Linked DNA regions of Homo sapiens: regions 1 and 3 are each linked to region 2. Evidence: fine-mapped expression QTL. A gene starts in region 2. Each other region holds a variant in brackets. All regions are shown on one strand. Distances are from middle to middle. Region 1 holds the start of LEFTY1 (left-right determination factor 1). Region 2 holds the start of PYCR2 (pyrroline-5-carboxylate reductase 2). Region 3 has its middle 25 kb from the start of LEFTY2.

Evidence for each region.
Region 1: its variant is fine-mapped to the expression of PYCR2 in vagina (GTEx, PIP above 0.99).
Region 3: its variant is fine-mapped to the expression of PYCR2 in adrenal gland (GTEx, PIP above 0.99). The same link has a PIP of 0.9 or more in ovary.

Annotation. Positions count from the first base shown.
Region 1 is chr1:225,886,786-225,892,006 of GRCh38, reverse strand. LEFTY1 (left-right determination factor 1) reads left to right here and starts at 2,861. Exons shown (of 4, transcript NM_020997.4): 1 at 2,861-3,190; 2 at 3,975-4,221; 3 at 4,369-4,608; 4 at 4,917-5,221. The coding sequence starts at 2,941. RefSeq lists enhancers at 1-556, 557-1,274, 1,275-1,992, 4,146-4,862 and a silencer at 524-818. The variant G/A (reference allele first, on the strand shown) is at 2,931.
Region 2 is chr1:225,921,282-225,926,482 of GRCh38, reverse strand. It overlaps PYCR2 (pyrroline-5-carboxylate reductase 2), which reads left to right and starts at 2,233. Exons shown (of 7, transcript NM_013328.4): 1 at 2,233-2,439; 2 at 2,712-2,782; 3 at 4,100-4,279; 4 at 4,404-4,625; 5 at 4,839-4,931; 6 at 5,112-5,201. The coding sequence starts at 2,373. It overlaps MIR6741 (microRNA 6741), which reads left to right and starts at 4,341; the gene lies at 4,341-4,403. RefSeq lists silencers at 1,887-1,966, 2,107-2,196, 2,507-2,636 and an enhancer at 1,687-2,336.
Region 3 is chr1:225,963,789-225,969,009 of GRCh38, reverse strand. It overlaps the pseudogene NDUFA3P3. Among named protein-coding and RNA genes, the nearest start is that of LEFTY2, 25 kb to the right of the region's middle. The variant T/C (reference allele first, on the strand shown) is at 2,433.

The DNA of each region.
Region 1 (5,221 bases), 34 kb after region 2:
GGTGTCATGTTGGACCCCCAAGCAGGCAAGCTGGGAGGGCACCACCTTGGAGAGACCAAAGAAAAGACCCAGAGACAGCAGGCAAGACATGAGCTTTATTCAAGGGACTTACGCACAGGGGGAAGTCCAGGAGCGGCAGGCTGGACAGGAGCAACCGCTGCCATTTGTGAAAAGTGTGCAGGTCATGTAGAAACCTTCACATTGCAACATTTGTTTGTTTGGTTGGCTTTTTTTGAGACAGGGTCTCACTCTGTCGCCCAGGCTGGAGCGCAGTGGTGCAATCTCGGCTCACTGCAACCTCTGCCTCACAGGTTCAAGCGCATCTCCTGTCTCAGCCTCCTGACTAGCTGGGACTACAGGCGTCTGCCACCAAGCCCAGGTAATTTTTGTATTTTTAGTAGAGTCGAGGTTTTGCCATGTTGGCCAGGCTAGGCTCCAATTCCTGACCTCAAGTGATCCGCCCACCTTGGCCTCCCAGAGTGCTGGGATTATAGGCGTGAGCCACCACGCCCAGCCCAAAACCACATTGCAACTTCCATCTAGCAACCTCTACTTAGCAGCCTCCACCTACCTCAAAACAATGGACCTCTGTTCCTTGTACAGCCTGTGTTCCAAGTAACAGGCCAGGGGCCTGACATTCTTCATAGTTAAACATAATTAAACATCCAGGTTGGCCGTTCCCACGGTCCATAGCCTGGAACACTGAACAAACATCACCAAGGGACAAAGGGTCCTTCCCAGGCCATGCTTGAGTTGTTGCTGTCTGGCAAGATGTGCCCACCACACAAAGGTGCTGGATGAACTGAAACGGGTCCCTATTCCTGGTTTGTTTCCCACCCTCCTCAGCCCAGACAGAGCCCCAGGGAAGGACCCCTGATGATGCCAGAGTCTGAGCTACTTTGGGAGAACAGGAAGTGCCCACACAGGGGGTGCCTGGAACCACCAAGGAGCCACATGGGCCCCCAGGCCTGGGGTCAGGGAGGTTGATGGTGTGGGTTGGGGCAGCCCAGGACACCTGGACTGGCCTTGGGGCATTTCCTGAGCACTCTCAGAAGTATCTGCCCCTGCCCAGGAAGGGGGCAAAAGCCACCCTGGAGACCCTAGATGCTGGGCTCTGACTTAGAAGCCACTCCACTCCTGGACTCTTAGCTTTGCTGACGTCAGAGCCCAGGCCTGAGTCCAGCTCATCCCCATCCATGGAGGCCCCAGGATGACCTCTGACCCCCATGTTTTCCCATGGCTCTCACTTGGCAACCTGGCCTCTGGTTGGGGTCACATCCTGGCCCACCAGGGGCAGGAGGGTGTTCGAGGGCAAAGGGCCCCACTCCTCATCCACCCTCCTACCTGGGCCCCCTCCCCCTCTCCCCAGTATGGCCAGACCACTGCCCTCCAGTGCCCTTAGCTCTGGGCCGAGGGCCAGGTCCAAATGTGCTCTGAGTCAGGGTAGGGATCACTCATTCCCTTGCCCCGCTCTCCTCCCTTAGATAGAAGATCTGGTTCTGGGGCCACTTTACCATCTCAAGCCCAATCTGGGCAGACCCAGGTGGGGATGGTTGGGGAAGCCAGGCTCCGTCTTCTGCATGACAAAGGGTGGGGCTGCCCTCCCTCCTGGCAACACTTCAGACCATTGTAAACAGTCTCCCAATCCACATTTGTTTTATTTTTCGTTGTCAGATCTAGCAAATAAAAATATAGGACTCTGGTGAAATTTGAATGTCAGGTAGACAATGAATAATTTTTTTGGTATAATTATGTCCCAAATAGTGCCTTGTATTTTATCTGGTAGCCCTACCCCTGGCTGATCACCCAAATGTTTTATTTCCCCAGCAAAACTCTTCAACCAGCTTACAAATCCACATTCAGGATAGGGGTCCTCTGTCTTGGGGGATTGTCCCCCTGCCCCAGCCTAGACCTGATCACCTGGATTGAGACCACCTGGCTCCCTTTAGGGCATAGATCAAAACTAGGCTGTAAATAATTTGAGTGTGCCAAGAACTTTGTGAATTGCAAGACCTGACTTTATATGGACATTGATCATTAACTTTGTGAGCTTCGGGAAGTTGACACCTCTGAGCCTCGGTTTTTTTTCAGCTCAAAAATTGGGAGAGGTTGCCGTGAGCCGAGACTGCGCCATTGTACTCCAGCCTGGGCAACAAGAATGAAACTCTGTCTCAAAAGAAAAAAAAATTGGGGGAGAAGGTAGCCTGGATATTCCTTTCAACTCTAAACTCTAATTCTGTGAACAGCAGGGATGAGGGAGAGGATGAGGCTCCTTCCTTATTGGACAAAACCCCGTTGGAACTAAATGCTCCTAGGCTCCCTTGCCTAGGAAGGTCCCCCCAGAACAGTGGGAAATCTGGTTTCACAACTGGGGACCACCAGCTCAGGATCTCATGAGGCCCCGGGACCCTCTGAGCACGGGCCCGGATGCTCATCCCTGCAGACTGGATTGGCCCTTAGAGCCCTGGCGTTGCCTGAGCCATTCTGGTTCCTGTCAGTTGTTTGGTTGCAGCAAGGAACAAGACTCTAGGTCCACTTACCAGCAGCTGGGGGAACTGAGCCTCTTGCAGAGAACGAGAGCCCCACCTCTACTCTAGGAAATGAGCTTTTTAATTTAACTGGTCAGGCCTCAACCCACATTAGGGGTTCATGACCATTGTATAGACAGCTGTAGCCAGCTGTTCACAGCCCAGACAGACTTGCCCTATCTAGACAGCCCCCTCCTCCCAGCTCAGGGACTCGTCTGGCTGTGAGCTTCCAGGAGGTCTCAGGGGTGTGACCTCCCTCCCTCCTTCCCTCCCCACTCCCTACCTCCTCCCTCCACCCCAGGCTATAAAGCTGCCCAGGCTTGGCTCTCAGCACATCCAGCTGCCTGAGACCCTCCTGCAGCCTTCTCAAGGGACAGCCCCACTCTGCCTCTTGCTCCTCCA[G/A]GGCAGCACCATGCAGCCCCTGTGGCTCTGCTGGGCACTCTGGGTGTTGCCCCTGGCCAGCCCCGGGGCCGCCCTGACCGGGGAGCAGCTCCTGGGCAGCCTGCTGCGGCAGCTGCAGCTCAAAGAGGTGCCCACCCTGGACAGGGCCGACATGGAGGAGCTGGTCATCCCCACCCACGTGAGGGCCCAGTACGTGGCCCTGCTGCAGCGCAGCCACGGGGACCGCTCCCGCGGAAAGAGGTTCAGCCAGAGCTTCCGAGGTGAGGCCCTCCCTCCCTGCTGCCCCTGGTCCCATGGGGCAGGTCAGATGTGCCCACTCCGGTGGTGTCAAAGGGCTCCTGGCCTTGCAGAGGTCTGTGGGAGGCTGAGTGAGGGCCACGGTCTAAGGGGCAGTGAGGTGGGGCCGGGCCTGTGAGGATGGCGGGGCCTCAGCATGCAGCGGTGCATGCAGTCAGGACTCCGGGGGTCTGTTTTCGTACTGCCACTCTGGTCTGAGTTCTACTTGGAGCATATTGCTTTAAAATCATCTCACAACCATTTGCTCACATGGAACTGGGGTATAACTATGTCTTGCCCATCTTCCAGCATTGTGAACATCAAAATGAGTCATTGTAAATAGAAGCGTGTTTGGGTAACTGAAAAATACTGCACTTGAGTAGACAACCTGGGTTATACCTGGCTGTCAGGGGTGCAGCGGGCCTGAATCCTCCTGCAGCCGGCCTGAATCCTCCTGCAGCCTCTCGCCTCCCTAGCTCCTCAGTGCCCAGAGCTAGACCCAATGCCAGGCACCTGGGTGAGGATTCTGCTCCCAGCATCTCAGCTGAGGCAAACTTGCTAGCCAGGGTCCCACAGGCGCCCCTGCCTGCTGGATGGAAATTGTTACTAAACAAGGCCCAGATCCAAGGAAGATTTGTAAACTGGGTTTGCCCCAGAAATAGAACAGGGCCGGTGTCTCCTGGCCTGGCTGCCAGCTCAGTGGCCCTGCCATCCTCAGAGCTCCCCTGGAGTCGGGGGAGGCCCTGCTGACCCTGCTCTTGTCCCCAGAGGTGGCCGGCAGGTTCCTGGCGTTGGAGGCCAGCACACACCTGCTGGTGTTCGGCATGGAGCAGCGGCTGCCGCCCAACAGCGAGCTGGTGCAGGCCGTGCTGCGGCTCTTCCAGGAGCCGGTCCCCAAGGCCGCGCTGCACAGGCACGGGCGGCTGTCCCCGCGCAGCGCCCGGGCCCGGGTGACCGTCGAGTGGCTGCGCGTCCGCGACGACGGCTCCAACCGCACCTCCCTCATCGACTCCAGGTGGGGGTCGCGGGGGCGCGCAGGGTAGGGGGAGGGCGCTGCTAGGCCCGGCTTGGGGGCGGGGACGCGGGGGGGCGGTGCGGGGTCCTCGGGGCCCGTCCCAGTCCCCGCCCTCAAGCGGCGCTGGGTCTCTGTGTCATGTCTCAGGCTGGTGTCCGTCCACGAGAGCGGCTGGAAGGCCTTCGACGTGACCGAGGCCGTGAACTTCTGGCAGCAGCTGAGCCGGCCCCGGCAGCCGCTGCTGCTACAGGTGTCGGTGCAGAGGGAGCATCTGGGCCCGCTGGCGTCCGGCGCCCACAAGCTGGTCCGCTTTGCCTCGCAGGGGGCGCCAGCCGGGCTTGGGGAGCCCCAGCTGGAGCTGCACACCCTGGACCTTGGGGACTATGGGTAGGTGCTGAGGGTCAAACTGGTAAGCCGGAATAAAGAGACAGGCAATTACATTTATTTTGAAATGGACAACTTTTCAGAGTGCTGTGGGAATGAATGAGACAATGTATACAATTCTTCCTCTGACTCTTAGGAGATCCTCAGTAAATATCGGTTATTAATTTTCAAGTTATTTCTAGCTGTCCATCCTATATCACAAACATCCAGCTTTTTGAAGTTGAGAGGTGGATCATAAATCTCCATCCCAGACGCCCTCTGACCTCAGCCCTCCCAGCTGACCGCTGACCCTGCTCTCTTTGCCCACACAGAGCTCAGGGCGACTGTGACCCTGAAGCACCAATGACCGAGGGCACCCGCTGCTGCCGCCAGGAGATGTACATTGACCTGCAGGGGATGAAGTGGGCCGAGAACTGGGTGCTGGAGCCCCCGGGCTTCCTGGCTTATGAGTGTGTGGGCACCTGCCGGCAGCCCCCGGAGGCCCTGGCCTTCAAGTGGCCGTTTCTGGGGCCTCGACAGTGCATCGCCTCGGAGACTGACTCGCTGCCCATGATCGTCAGCATCAAGGAGGGAGGCAGGACCAGGCCCCAGGTGGTCAGCCTGCCCAACATGAGGG
Region 2 (5,201 bases):
TGAGGTCAGGAGTTGGAGACCAGCCTGGCCAACATGGTGAAACCCCATCTCTACTAAAAATACAAAAATTGGCCAGGCGTGGTGACACATGCCTGTAATCCCAGGTACTCGGAAGGCTGAGACAGGAGAATCGCTTGAACCCGGGAGATGGAGGTTGCAGTGAGCCGAGATCATGCCACTTCACTCCAGCCTGGGTAACAAAGACTCCGTCTCAAAAATAAATAAATAAATAAAAATAAGAAATAATAATAAATTGATGTTTTATGAGGACAGGAACTTGTCTGTTTTGTTCATAGCTATACTCCCAGAACCTGGCTCAGTAAGTTATCTATTATATAAATCAATAAACCTAACATTGACCTTTGAATGGTTAAATCAGTAAGGTACATACATATAATAAGTAGTCATTAAAACTGTCTTAAATAACTTTTCAGTGACATTGGAAAATGCTCATGTCTACTAGAGAAATTTCAAAACTACATGTACATCATTTATTTCCAATGATGGAGAAAGTAGATATGCATAGGACATGATAGTGTAAGGAAATACACCAAAAATGTTTGTAAGAAACTATCTTTGGGAAGTATGATGTGGATGATTTTATTTTTACTTTTATCTCCAAACTTTCTTCAATATGTCTGTATTACTTTTCGAATTTAAAAAATACAGAGGCCAGGTGCTGTGGCTCACGCCTGTAATCCCAGCACTTTGGGAGGCTGAGACAGGCAGATCACCTCAGGTCGGGAGTTCAAGATCAGCCTGACCAACATGGAGAAACCCTGTCTCTACTAAAAATACAAAAAATTAGCCGGGCGTGGTGGCGCATGCCTGTAATCCCAGCTACTCAGGAGGCTGAAGCAGGAGAATCGCTTGAACCCGGGAGGTGGAGGTTGCAGTGAGCCGAGATCGTGCCATTGCACTCCAGCCTGGGCAACAAGAGCGAAACTCTGTCTCAATAAATAAATAAATAAATAAATAAATAAAACATAGCATTATTTTGCTTAATAGTAAATATTATATTTGGTCCTCACTTTAAAGGGTGCACAAACTGAGGGCCTGGGGACTTGCTCAGGGAAGTTCACAGAAAGCAGCCCCTTGCCTGGGAGTGGGGGTGTGCATTACACGGAAAGGACTAGAAAAGCTAGCAGAGAGACCATGGGAACTAAGGGTCCTCAGCTCTTCTGAGTCCTCTAGGAACGCCACCTTCTTCCTCTCTACTTCTGTCATTTGTTCCCTGCGGCCCCTTATATTTACTACTGATAGAAAAGGAAACATCACATTGGTGGAGCTTTTAAAAGCAAGAGACAGGTCGGGCGCGGTGGCTCACGCTTATAATCCCAGCACTTTGGGAGGCCGAGGCGGGCGGATAACCTGATGTCAGGAGTTGAAGACCAGCCTGAACAACATGGTGAAACCCCGTCTCTACTAAAAATACAAAAATTATCCGGTCGTGGTAGCGGGCGCCTGTAATCCCAGCTACTGGGGAGGCTGAGGCAGGAGAATCGCTTGAACCCGGGAGGCGGAGATTGCAGTGAGCCGAGATCGTGCCACTGCACTCCATCCTGGGCAACAAGAGTGAAACTCCGTCTCAAAAAAAAAAAGGCAAGTGACAGCAAGGGGCTGGGGGGTGCGGGATCGCGGAAGAGTCGGAGACTCGAACTTGTCCTTCTTGTATCTAGTTTGGACAAATTCGCGAGAAACACTCAAGTTCAAGTGAATAAGCCGCGGCTGACCACCCTGGTGCCGCCTCGCCGCCACCTGGTCTGAACCTCGCCGCCACCTGGTCTGAACCTACGCCAGGAGGGCCTCGTTCATCCCCGCAAATCGGCAACCTGGAGAATTCCTGTGGGCCTTGAGGGGCATCTGATGGCCAGCGCCAGAAATAATATTAGCCAGGCCTGGGCCAGGCCTCAGCCCTGAGCCCGAGGTGGCTTAGGGACGGCGACCTCAGCCTTGGGGTGGGGGGGGGGGGTGGGGGCGGCCGGGCGTCCTGGGCCGGCGGGCGCCTGGAGCTCACGCCAAGCTGCCACAGGGGCTTCCGGGACTCCAGCCCGGAGTTCCGCCCTCCAGTCGCGAGCGGAGGAGGCGGGCACGCGGCCTGGCTCGGGCCGCGGATTGGCCTGCCCCGAGATCCTGGCCACTGATTGGTCGCCCGGACGGGGCGGGGCCACGTGGCCTAAGGCGCCATCAGCCGCCCGGGAGATATCCGCCGGGGGAGAATAGGGTTGCACCATCCCAGAAGCTGCTGTTAGCTCGCCGGTCCTCGGCACGCCGCCCGTTCGCCCCTGCGCTGTCCGCCCTTCCCCTAGCGTTACTTCCGGTCCCTCGCTGAGGGGGTTCGTGCGGCTCCCAGGAGGCGTGAACCGCGGACCATGAGCGTGGGCTTCATCGGGGCCGGCCAGCTGGCCTATGCTCTGGCGCGGGGCTTCACGGCCGCAGGCAAGCGCGTGGAGGCGGGAGGCGGCTTCGCGGGCGGTCCCGAGGCCCGAGGGGGCCTCCGTCCCACCAGCATGAGCGAATGAAAGGGGAGTTTGCGTCCGGTGGGGTAGATGAGACTCTGGTTGAGCAGCAAGTGCGTCTTCTGTCCTCGTAGAGGGTTGAGGGGGAGAGGGAGACTGGCACTGTTAGGACGGCTCTGGGTTTTAGAGCCAGGGAAAGCGTGGTAACGGGCTGGGCCGCGACCCCTAGTTGAAAAGCTCTGTCTTCTGCAGGCATCCTGTCGGCTCACAAGATAATAGCCAGCTCCCCAGAAATGAACCTGCCCACGGTGTCCGCGCTCAGGGTAGGTGGAGCCGGGCGGAGTGGGAAGCGGGTGGAGGCCCAGGAAAAGGATGACCTGAGATGAAGTGAGTCTGGCCGGCCCCTGCGCCCAAGTGCTGGTCTTTGGCCGGCGGTGACCTTTACTCCAGGAACGTGACAATCTTTCCACCTTCTCTTGGGCAGCTCAATGTGGTGGGAACACCCAGGGAGACATAACTGGGGGTCAGATCCAGACACTGGAGTGGTAGAGGATTAACTGAGGTGATTATGTGATGAAAGCACCTGGCACATAGTAGGTACCTAATAAATACTCATTTTTTAAATTTTTTTTCAGACAGGGTCTTACTCTGTCGCCCAAGCTGGAGTGCAGTGGCGCGATCTCAGCTCACTGTAACCTCCGCCTCCCACCTCAGCCTCCCACCTCAGCCTCCCGAGTAGCTGGAATTACAGGCATCCACCACGCGCAGCTAATTTTTGTATTTTTGGTAGAGAATACTGTTGGCCAGGCTGGTCTCGAACTCCTGGCCTCAAGTGATCTGCCCGCCTTGGCCTCCCAAAGTGCTGGGATTACAGGGGTGAGCCACTGCGCTCAGCCATTTTTCTTAATAGACGAGTTGTATGACCTTAAAGTACTCAGCCACTTTGAGGCTATTTCCTCATTTACAACAGTGGCCACTTTGCTGTTATTCTGAGTCGTGAATGAGCATATTGGGAAGAATCTGGTGAGTTAGTTGTTCTGTTCTCCAAAAACATATTCCAAGTCTTCACCCAAAACCTGTGCTCTGTGGGAGAGGATGGCTGATGAGGCAGGTGACAGGCAGTGTCTGTGCCTAGGGTGGGCTGATGTCCCTAGCACTGGAGGGTCCTGCTTCTCAGTTTGGAGTCATAGAGGGATGGATGGCTTCCAGCCTAGCCCTGGACCACATGGAGACTGTGCGGTCCCCACGAACAAGCGGCCAGGGTTAGGATAGGGCCTGACTCAGCTGTGCTTTTAACGACCAGGTATTAGCATTTCCCTTTGCCCTGCCACTTTCACCATAGGGCCTTCTTACCTGGCAGAGGAGTGCCTTAGATACCAGAAGATTGGCAGGGAAGAAGGGCAGCCACTTCCTGGTTACCATGGAGAAGCTTGTCATGCTCCAAGCCTGTGCTTACTTGTCCAGTAGCAACAATGGGAAACTGTATTATTTGGGGTAGGGGTAGAACCCTGAGGGCATAAAGCTAAGAATTCCAGGCTGCATCTGGCAGAATCGGTTTGGCAGGGGTTCAGCTGCTCCCTGGGAGGCCTTGGCATAGCCAGGCTGCTCCAGCACTGTGAGCTGGGAGTCTCCTCTTGCAGAAGATGGGTGTGAACCTGACACGCAGCAACAAGGAGACGGTGAAGCACAGCGACGTCCTGTTTCTGGCTGTGAAGCCACATATCATCCCCTTCATCCTGGATGAGATTGGGGCCGACGTGCAAGCCAGACACATCGTGGTCTCCTGTGCGGCTGGTGTCACCATCAGCTCTGTGGAGAAGGTGCCCATCTCAGCCCTGATGCCCCTTGTGTGAGGGGAGGGTTGACCCACGAATGGCAGCTAATGGGTGGGTGCTGGTGGGAGCCGTGCCCTGGCCACTCATTCGGCTCTCTCCCTCACCCTAGAAGCTGATGGCATTCCAGCCAGCCCCCAAAGTGATTCGCTGCATGACCAACACACCTGTGGTAGTGCAGGAAGGCGCTACAGTGTACGCCACGGGCACCCATGCCCTGGTGGAGGATGGGCAGCTCCTGGAGCAGCTCATGAGCAGCGTGGGCTTCTGCACTGAGGTGGAAGAGGACCTCATCGATGCCGTCACGGGGCTCAGTGGCAGCGGGCCTGCCTATGTGAGGCCCTCATTTGCTCGCTCAGCCTTCTAGGAACCCAGGCAGCAAGATGGGCTGGCAGGCAGGCTTGGACTGGGGGTGGCGCCCACCTCTTGGGCACAGCTGGCTGGTACAGGATGCTGACCCTTGGAGCTAGTTCTAGTCATCAGAAAGCAGACCTAAGGAAAGGCCCTTCAGTGCCTATGGCCTGGGGCTTAGTGAGTGTCTCCACAGGCATTCATGGCTCTGGACGCATTGGCTGATGGTGGGGTGAAGATGGGTTTGCCACGGCGCCTGGCAATCCAACTCGGGGCCCAGGCTTTGCTGGTCAGTATCTTTCCCCCGCATGTTCAGGACCAGGGTGTAGAATGGGGGTTCTTGTGCATCACTGAACTGAGGTGGGAGTTGGTTGGGAAGCTGGGGTAGCAGTTGGGCAGGAGCAGTGGGTATGGGAAGCCTGTTCCAACGCACACCAGCAACTTTCTCCTAATGTGCCCTTCCCCATAGGGAGCTGCCAAGATGCTGCTGGACTCGGAGCAGCATCCATGCCAGCTTAAGGACAATGTCTGCTCCCCTGGGGGAGCCACCATCCACGCC
Region 3 (5,221 bases), 43 kb before region 2:
GCTTATGTCTGTCTCCCCTCAGTGGAATGTGGGCCTCATGGCACAGGCCCATCGGGGTCACTGCTGTGTTCAGGGCTCAGTAAGGATGCCTCGGTGCGCTTGGATGTGGCGCTGGCCGGCTGGCTGGGGGTGCCACCTGGCGTGATTTGTTGTCACTTGCTCACTTGTCCTAGATGCTGTTTATAAAAGTACTAATAGAACCAGGCACGGTGGTTTATGCCTGTAATCCCAGCATTTTGGAAGCCCAAGGTAGGCGAATCCCTTGAGCCCAGGTGTTTGAGACCAGCTTGGGCAGCAGGGCAAAACCCTGTCTCTACTAAAAAAAAAAAAAAAAAAAAAAAAAAAAAAATTAGCCAGGCATGGTGGTGCGTGTGTAGTCCCAGCTACTTAGGAGGCTGAGTGGGAGGATCACTTGAGCCTGGGGAGGTTGAGGCCGCAGTGAGCTATAATCGCGTCACTGCGCTCCAGCCTGGGTAACAGAGTGAGACCCCGTCTCAAAAATAAATAAATAAATGATACTAATAGTAGAAGGTGATGTATGGCCTTGGAAAAGGCTGAGTTCGACGGCTAGGAAGCCTAGTTTTCCCCTCTCTTCCTCTTCCTTGCACTATACCCTGCAGATCATGGAGCTGGACTGAAGGTCTCAGTTTCTTCTTACGTCACATCAAGGAGGGTGATGCTGACAGCAGGCATCCTCTCGTGAGTTGCCAGCAGTTTTGTGAAGGTGTGGGGAGAGGCCAGTCACGGTGACTCACACCTGTAATCCCAGCACTTTGGGAGGCCGAGGTGGGTGGATCATCTAAGGTCAGGAGTTCAAGACCAGCCTGGCCAACATGGTGAAACCCCGTCTCTACTAAAAATACAAAAATTAGCTGGGCATGGTGGCGAGTGCCTGTAACCCCAGCTACTGGAGAGGCTGAGGCAAGAGAATCACTGAACCCAGGAGGCGGAGGTTGCAGTGAGCCGAGATCGCACCATTGCACTCCAGCCTGGGCGACAAAGCAAGACTGTCTCAGAAAAAAAAAAAAAAAAAAAAAAGAAGAAGATGTAGGGAGAGAGGGAAACGAAGAATGTGGGGGGGGAAATGAAGAGCTTAAAAAATAAAACTACAAAATCTTTTAGCCAAAGGGGGAAGAAAACAAGGGCAACATAAATAATTTGAAATTTTTCTCCAGAGAAATAGCAAAAGTTCCACTCATCTCCATTTAGAAGTTTGTAATGGGGAGAAACATATTCCATAAATCAAAAAGAGTAATTTATTTTCAAATTATATATGTCTGTAGAAACACATAAAATTCATAGAGAAAGATGAAGAGATCATAAGAAAAAAAAGCCCTTAATTTTTTTTTTTTTTTTTGAGACGGAGTCTCAACTCTGTTGCCCAGGCTGGAGTGCAGTGGTGTGATCTTGGCTCACTGCAACCTCTGCCTCCAGGGTTCAAGCAATTCTCATGGCTCAGCCTCCCAAGAAACTGTGACTACAGTTGCGCGCCACCATGCCTGGCTATTTTTTTTTTGTATTTTTAGTAGAGACAGGGTTTCACTCTGTTGGCCAGGCTGGTCTTGAACTCCTGGCCTCAGGTGATCTGTCCATCTTGGCCTCTCAAAGTGCTGGGATTATAGACATGAGCCACCGCGCCTGGCCCCTTACTTAATTTAGAGTAAAGGCAAAGACCTAAGTGATATTTTTATGTGTTGCAAATGTCTCCTCCTACTCTCAGCTTTCCATTTCCTTAATGGTGTCTTAAAAATTGTGTTATTGAATATAACATACAAACAGTATGAACAATGAATAAATCAGAATGTACAACGTGAATTTTTTTTTTTACAAATGAACTCTGTAACCAGCATCCAGATCAAGAAACAGAACATTATAAGAACTCCAAAGCCCTGGAGACCCCTTCTGGTCACTACCTTCCAAGGGTACCATTATCCTGACTTGTATAAATGGAATCTGAGAGAAGGCAAGTTTTCTTTTACATGTATGATGTATGTGGGATTCCCTATACGGTTTCATTCATTCATGAGTAGTGGTCATTCATTCATGTTCGTTGCTTTATAGTATTCTAGTGTGCAGCAATTCATCCACTCTACTATTGATGGATATTTGGATAATTCCCAGTTTGGGGGTATTATTAATGGTGCTGCTATGTGAAGGGGTGGCCTTCCCCTCCACACCTGTGGGTATTTCTAGTCAGGTGGGATGAGAGACTGAGAAAAGAAATAAGACACAGAGACAAAGTATAGAGAAACAACCGTGGGCCCAGGGGACTGGCACTCAGCATACCAAGGACCTGCACCGGCACCAGTCTCTGAGTTCCCTCAGTTTTTATTGATTATTATTTTTATTATTTTAGTAAAAAGGAATGTAGTAGGAGAGCAGGGTGATAATAAGGAGAAGGTCAGCAACAAACATGTGAGCAATAGAATCTA[T/C]GTCATAATGAAGTTCAAGGGAAGGTACTATGACTGGACGTGCACGTAAGTCAGATTTATGTTTCTCTCCACCAAAACATCTCAGCAGAGTAAAGAATAACAAGGCAGCATTGCTGTAAACATGTCTTGCCTCCCACCATAGGGCGGTTTTTCTCCTATCTCAGAATTGAACAAATGTACAGTCGGGTTTTATACTGAGACATTCAGTTCCCAGGGGCAGGCAGGAGACAGTGGCCTTCCTCTATCTCAACTGCAAGAGGCTTTCCTCTTTTACTAATCCACCTCAGCATAGACCCTTTATGGGTGTCGGGCTGGGGGATGGTAAGGTCTTTCTCATCCCACAAGGCCATATTTCAGACTATCACATGGGGAGAAACCTTGGACAATACCCAGCTTTCCAGGGCAGAGGTCCCTGCGGCTTTCCGCAGTGCATTGTGCCCCTGGTTTATTGAGACTAGAGAATGGCGATGACTTTTACCAAGTATACTGCTTGTAAACATGTTGTTAACAAGGCACGTCCTGCACAGCCCTAGATCCCTTAAACTTTGATTTCGTACAACACATGTTTTTGTGAGCTCCAGGTTGGGTCAAAGTGGCTGGGGCAAAGCTACAAATTAACAACATCTCAGCAAAGCAACTGTTTAAAGTACAGGTCTTTTTCAAAATGGAGTCTCTTATGTCTTTCCTTTCTACATAGACACAGTAACAGTCTGATCTCTCTTTCTTTTCCCTACACTATGGAACATTCTCTCTCTCTCTCTCTCTCTCTCTCTCTCTCTCTCTCTCTCTGTAGCAATTTTACTGAACTGGTGCTGCTCCTTTTGTAGGAGGACTAACCCATAGGCACTGTGCCCAGAGTCAGCCTGAACATTCTAGAACTTGCTTTTGATCAACACCTTGTATTAGGGACAGAACTAAAGGGACAGAACTAATAGGATGTATGTATATATGAAAGGAAGTTTATTAAGGAGAATTGACTCACAAGATCACAAGGTAAAGTCCAACGATAGACTCTCTGCAAGCTCAGGAGCAAGGAAGCCAGTAGTGGCTTAGTCTGAGTCTCAAAACCTCAAAAGTCGGGAAGCTGACAGTGCAGCCTTCAGTCTGTGGCCAAAGGCCCGAGAGCCCCTGGCAAACCACCAGTGTAAGTCCAAGAGTCCAAAAACCAAAGAACTTGGAGTCTGATGTTCCAGGGCAGGAAGCATCGAGCACGGGAGAAAGATGAAGGCCTGAAGACTCAGCAACTCTGCCCTTCCATCTCCTGCCTGCTATTTCTAGCCATGCTGCCTCTCCCAGTCCACTGCCTCAAATGTTAATCTCCTCTGCTACCACTGTCACAAAAAAACACCCAGAAACAATACTTTGCATCCTTCAATCCAATCAGGTTGACACTTTTTTTTTTTTTGAGACAGAGTCATGCTCTGTCGCCCAGGCTGGGGTGCAGTGGCGCAATCTTGGCTCACTGCAACCTTTGCCTCCCTGGTTCAAGCAATTCTCCTGCCTCAGTCTCCTGAGTAGCTGGGACTACAGGTGCGCGCCATCATGCCTGGCTAATTTTTGTATTTTTAGTAGAGACGGGGTTTGCCATGTTGACCAGGCTGGTCTTGAACTTTTGGCCTCAAGTGATCTGCCAGCCTCAGCCTCCTCCCAAAGTGCTGGGATTACAGGTGTGAGCCACCACGCCCGGCCACAATCAAGTTGACACTTAATATTAACCATCACACACATGAACATATTTCTGTTGATTATATACCTATGCTGGTCACAGGATGTGTAAATATTCAGCTTTAGGAGATATTGGGAGAAATAGCAACACTTGATATACATATATATACACATATATATATACATATATATACACACATATATATACATATATATACATATATATACACACATATATACATATATATACATATATACATATATACATATATATACATATATACACGCATATATATACATATATATACATATATATATACACATATATATGTGTGTATATATATACATATATATATACACATATATATGTGTGTGTGTATATATATATATATATATATATATATATATATATAAAGTTGTTGGTTTTCACATTTTTATTGGGAGCCATGCGAGGGGCCTCTTCTGTCAGTGGAGGTGCTCACACTTTCTTCAGCCACTCCAAGCTGGGGCCCTGGGGGCCCTGGGGGTGGCTGCACATGTCCGCATGTTCCCATCATCGTGGACGGGCACTGGATAGTTGTAGGGTGTGGCCTCATTGATCATGATGGAATACTTGGTGTAGGGGCTGAGTGGGGGCAGAATTACAGTGAGGCTCCCGATGACGAAGGAGACCACCAGCACTGGCTCCTTGGCCCAGGAGTTCTTGAGGAAGGCGCCAAGTCTCACAACCATCTTGGTCTCGGCTTTATATATATATATATATATATATTTATTACAGTGGGAGTGTGTGAGTTTGTGTGTGATTAGAGATTTCATCTCACTATGTTGCCCAAGCTGGTCTTGAAGGGCTCAAGCAATCCTCCCGCCTCAGCCTCCCAAAGCACTGAGAATAGAGGCATGAGCCACCGTGCCCGGCCACATCACGTATTAACTTGCATTTCCCTGATGACTAATGAAGCCAAGCATTTTTTCCTGTTGATTGGCCACGTGGATATCCTCTTCTACCATGTGCCTATTCTAGTCTTTTGCCCATTTTGTGAGGTTTTTTTTTTGCCATTTTTTTCATTGAATTGTCTGACTGTCCTTTTCTTATTGACTTTTTTTCTTTTTTTTTTTGAGATGGA